Linked DNA regions of Homo sapiens: region 2 is linked to region 1. Evidence: fine-mapped expression QTL. Tissue or cell type: nasal epithelium. Region 1 holds a variant in brackets; the other region holds the start of a gene. All regions are shown on one strand. Distances are between the middles of the regions.

Region 1 (2,683 bases):
CACTCCTTCCATTCTGCATGTTTTGCCTCACTCTGCACCAGTCTCACATGTAGCCAAACTGGGCCTGAGACAGGTGTCAAGGGCAAGCCCATTAGCCCATTGCCTGCTCTTGCCGCCATGTATGCATTTTCTGCTGGCCGGCTGCTTGGAGGGTGGAGAGTCAAGGTTTCTTTGCTCAAGAAGACCTTGGCGCACCAGGTAAATGCCTGCCGGTGTTAGGCTGGAGGAAAGGGACATCAGAAACAGGCTGCTGAGTGGAAGCCAGTCAGAAGTTTTATGAAAACAGCAGCAGCTTGAGACAGCCCATGCTCACAAGAGGGGACCTGTCAGTTAAGCCCTTTCCCCTGAAAGAAGAATGACATTAAACCAGGCCTTGTGGTGCACGCCTGGTGCATGCCTGTAGTCCCAGCTACGTGGGAGGCCGAGGCAAGAGGATCGCTTGAGCCCCGGAGGCTGAGCTTAGAGTTTGGGAAAATCACTTCATAACCTTTCACAAGATCTGAAAGAAATAAGCTTCACATTCTTTCCACACTATGTTTACTTTCTCAACTTTACAAGTTCTTTTTTGTTGTGTTTGTGTGTGATGTTTGTTTTATATTTGAAGGAATATCTTTATCATTTGTTCTCTTATTTAGGATGAATAAATTTAAACATGGCTGTCATTCAGAAACAGAAAAGATTTATAGAAAAATACAGAGACATTGTTCTTTTCTCTGTAAGGTCTGTAAGCTGCTCACAGACATGCCTGGGGTTGAAGAGGGGTTAGTGTTGGATGCTGGCAGAGTATAGATTGCATTGAACTGTATTTAATCTTCTGATTTCAAGCACTGAGATAAATTGAGGTCAGGGAACCTCTGAGACAGAAGTAGGCTCTTTTATCTGGGTCGTTTTAAATGAGATGCTGTTTTTAGATTATACGTAACTGAAAAAAAGAGGCTCGTCTTACTTCCATGTTTTTGTCCCTTCTACAGGTCAGCTCAAGTAATGTCGTCTTGAAGACGGGATTTGATTTTCTGGACAATTGGTAAAATGTATTAGAAAAATACAATGAAGAACCCTAAAATGTTTTCCAAAGTGGTGTGGTGGAGGAGGATAAAAAGGGCCACCTTTTCCTATGTATTTTACTGGTTTCTTGACACTCTTTTCTTAATCATTTGGAAACTGGTCAATA[T/C]TGCCAGATTTTTTTCTTTTTTGGTAGAACCAGATATATATGCTATTTTCAGTGATTTGATAACAGAAGTTTTCCATTTGGAATTTTTAAGGTCTGTTAATAATTCAGGAGATCTTGTAAATAAAACTTCTGTTCCCAGCTCCACCCAACTTTCCCCCTCCTCAAAGGATGTGTTTCAACCATGTCACAAAAATCATATAAGTGATTTCCATCTCCTTCTCCATTATTCCCCCTCCCCCCTCCGCTTTTTACCGTATGGGTTCCTTTTGGTGGGTGATTGAGGGTGATGTTATCAGCCATGACATCAGCATGCTGGCTGTGACCCCGGAAAGACTGGCCCCCAGCGACGTTCTCAGCCAGCGCTCGCAGCTGTCCGGGGCTTCTCTGGCAGAAGCCATGTCTCTCACATCATGTGCCAGCCTCCACCCTCACGCCATTTCCAGGGAACAGACTGCGGGTATGTAGCAGTGTAGTCTTTAACCTGCTCTGATACATATTCAGAGTATGGATTGTTGTTTAAAAAGAGTTGCATGTTTAAAGAGTTTTGTACTAGCTTTTCATTATTTTGTATCTAGATTATCAACAATGGGGCTACCACTTTCCTTGGTTTTATATCCATTTCCTCTTGGAAGTTCTTGTTGCTTATGTGACCTGTTGGTTGTTCCCCGGACTGGGCACCTACAGGAGTCAGGGCAGACGGCAGATGTGGCTGGAGGTCAGGGCTCTTCTGCTTAGTTGTGTTAGAGTCTTCCAGCATGGGACTGATGGGAGCAGTGGGCATTCTTTATCCCAAGGGCTAGCCAGGTTGCGTCATGACGGACCTTCCCCAGCCCTGACCACCACCAGAAGTGGAAGAGTGGAGTTTGCGGTCAACTCAGCAGTGCCCATGGAGACCTGCGTGGTGTCAGAGCAGCAGTATCTCTTGGAGCTGGTGCAGACACCAAGGCTGCCCAGTGGTACAACGTGGTCCACCTCCCCTAGGGAAGCTGCTGCACTCAGAGGCTGTCCTGCCCAGTGGCCCCTGAGCCGTGTGAGCCTGCAGGAGGCGTCTGAGCAGAGCCTCAAGCCCGGTATGGCGCCATCTCCATGTTGCCATCACTGCGTTCTCACCTGAAGCCTTAATCTTTGCGACACCTGCCAGTGAGCGCTCGGTTTCAATACCAAAGTGTGTCTTCTTCTTTTTTTTTTTTTTTTAAATGCCTGTTTCATAGGACCTTCTGAAATGATTTCCAGAATATTTTATCTGGCTCCAAAATAAAGCACATAGCAACTCACCTCAACCCCTCATCATCTCCAGGAAAGTTTCTGCCAAAGCTGTGGCATAGCCAACTTTTGATTTGGTTCTTGCCAATTGTTTTATGTCCCTAAACCTCATTTGGATCCTTGGGGTATAGTTTTATCTTTCTGCTTCAGTGATTTACTGTAACTTTTCAAATATTGGTTCTTTCTGTACCATTTAAGTATAGTTGATATATGTGAGGCAAAAAAAGGTTTCAGCATGGTGGTGAGGGA
Region 2 (2,683 bases), 29 kb before region 1:
TGCCACATTCATGACATTCCAAAAATATTCTGAGGATTTCTGGGCCGGAAGATGAGGCCATCTCACATTTAAAATAGGACTTTGCAAGTTATTTCTACTTTTGTGTTCAGAACTATCCAGGCAAAGACCCTGGATAACAGCTGAAATGCTGGTTTTTGTTTTTGTTTTTTTATTTTACGAGTGGACACAATTCTCACCTGAGTCCTGTTAGTCTTGTTAAAATCAGTCAGATGGAGAGAGGGGCTTGGGGGAAGTGGGGGCTCGCTATAATTTTAATTTTGTGGTCTGTCTGGGACACACCTCAAAATTACAAACCCTGGCCCCCTACCTGTTGGGATGTCGCCTCTGAGTCTGAAAACTTTCTGCTCCTCTTTGGTTTGTTTGCAAACGTCGAACTGCCAAGAGTTCTGAGCTCCTTGGGTTGGGGAAAGGCACCTGGGCCACCGGGTACTTCATGCACCCACCTGGCCCCGAGGGGCGGCGGGAGCTGACTTTCCTTGAGCACCAGATGCCCCGAACCGGTCCAGCCTTCCAGGTCGCCCTCCAGCCTCCGGGCTGCCCTGCGCCCCCGGCTATCTGCAGCTCACCGCGCCAGGCCCCGGGCCCAGCGTCCTGGACGGGCCCAGAGAAAGCAGAGAAGGTGTGGCTCGTCCCAGAAAGGGACAGAAGGAAAGGAGTAAAAACAGAAGCCAGGCAGCCAGCGGCTTGGCCTGAAATGCTGGGGCTTTCTTAGGCTCACTGGAGGTTGAAAAAAGTTTCCTTTGTCAAGCAGTGGCCACGTGGCGCTATGGCGGTCACTACCGGGAATTAACCACGGCCACCCTCTCAGAGCGCCGGGCGCGGACTCAGGGACACGCCGGCTACCACCTGAGCCGGGTAAGGGGAGCCCGAAACCTGCGGGCACCGCGGTAATCCACTATGGAGGCGTAAAGGGGGACTCGTGGGGTCCGCGAGGGGGTGGCGGGGGGGGGCCCGGAGGGAGGAGCTCCCGGGGAGGGGGCCACGGAGGGCCGGGGTCCCGGGGCTTGGGGAGCTGGGTTGGCTTGGAGACCCGGGTACGCGGCGGTGCAGGGCGGGGTTCCCGGAGGGGGCGGGGCTCCGGGTGGCGCGGGGCGGGGCGAGGGCGGGCACAGCGAGGGGCGGGGCGCGGGCCGGGAGCGGCGGGCAGGCCGGGCATGGCGTCCATGGCGGCGGCGATCGCGGCTTCGCGCTCGGCGGTCATGAGCGGGAACCGGCCTCTGGACGACCGGGAGCGAAAGCGCTTCACTTACTTCTCGTCGCTGAGCCCCATGGCCAGGAAGATCATGCAGGACAAGGAGAAGATCCGCGAGAAGTACGGGCCCGAGTGGGCGCGGCTGCCGCCCGCGCAGCAGGACGAGATCATCGACCGGTGCCTGGTGGGGCCGCGCGCCCCGGCGCCCCGAGACCCCGGGGACTCGGAGGAGCTCACGCGCTTCCCCGGCTTGCGCGGGCCCACGGGCCAGAAGGTGGTGCGCTTCGGGGACGAGGTAGGTGCGGGCCTGGCCGCGGACCCTCTTCCCCTCCCGGCGCCCCGAGGCGCCCCGGCCCGGTGGGCACCTGCCGGCGTGAGGCCGCCCCAGCTGGTAGGGGCTGGAAAAGAAAAGGCAGGAATGGCAGTGGGTGGGAGGGGAGCCCCAGAGCCGAAGTTCGGGGGGTGGGGGCTCCGCTGGGGGAGTTGGTTAAGAGATCGCCGAGAGGTGGGTCGTTAAAGAACCTCCATCTAGACCTGATCCGCCGGCTCGCACGGACTCCAGAGACTTCTCCCGGAGCTGTCGTAAGCGAGGCTGACCAAAGTGGAAACAACAAGCAATTTTAAACCAGACAAGCCTGGGTTTTAATCCAGCTCTGCTACTTACTACCTGTATGGCGGTGGGTCAATTAACTTCTTAGAGCCTCAGTTTCCACTGTGTAAAACGGGGGTAATAACGCCACCCCGTGCCTGCCCGTGAAGGGACTGAGCAAATGATATATACTAACATGAATACTTGTGATGAGATGTATGGGGAAAGTAAAATTGCCAAGCCAGGTAACAAGGAAGAAAAGGTGTCTTCCAAGATAAGGAGGGAAACCCATCCATCACCCTAAGATGTTTTCCAAGTGAGCACAATGCCCAGCGTATGTTTTAAGGGTGAGCATGGTGGCCCTGTTTTCCACCAAAAAACTAAGGGACGATAAGTTTAAATGAGCTCCAGTAAGTCTTGGCCACATAACAGGGCATGTTTAGGTCTCAGATCTAGACACTGTCCAGACTGCTAGAGGGACAGTCATTTGTGAAGGTAGAAACGCTGAATCTGTTCCAGAAAAAGCTCAGGGATGACCCACACTTAGTCACAAACGCCTGAATCTTCTGTAGGGTTCAGAAACTTGGTCTTCTTTTTCTTAGAAATGTGTTTAACCGAAGCCTGTTTGGTGCCATTAGAATTTGCACTGTGACTCTTTGGCGTTTCAAACTCAACTTTTGCCGTGAGGAGCAAAGTCAAGCTGAGCAAAGAGTGTAGGAATGAAATCGCTCGCTGTTAAGGCTGTTTCTTGGGCTAGAGGAAGGAGAAGCTGGGAGAGATTTTTTCCGAGGAAGTTGTGGATTGTGGATGGAATTCAAGTTAAGGAGGTTTAGATCAGATTTTCAGGCTTGGGTGTGCTGAGACATTTATTAATACGAAGT

Evidence for each region. PIP is the estimated chance that this variant, and not a neighbour inherited with it, causes the effect.
Region 2: it holds the start of C1orf198, and the variant in region 1 is fine-mapped to the expression of C1orf198 in nasal epithelium (TOPMed, PIP above 0.99).

Annotation. Positions count from the first base shown.
Region 1 is chr1:230,838,197-230,840,879 of GRCh38, reverse strand. It overlaps C1orf198 (chromosome 1 open reading frame 198), which reads left to right. Exons shown (of 4, transcript NM_032800.3): 4 at 972-2,683. The coding sequence ends at 1,028. Among named protein-coding and RNA genes, the nearest start is that of C1orf198, 29 kb to the left of the region's middle. The variant T/C (reference allele first, on the strand shown) is at 1,172.
Region 2 is chr1:230,867,005-230,869,687 of GRCh38, reverse strand. C1orf198 (chromosome 1 open reading frame 198) reads left to right here and starts at 1,167. Exons shown (of 4, transcript NM_032800.3): 1 at 1,167-1,508. The coding sequence starts at 1,176. RefSeq lists an enhancer at 604-1,195 and a silencer at 1,019-1,238.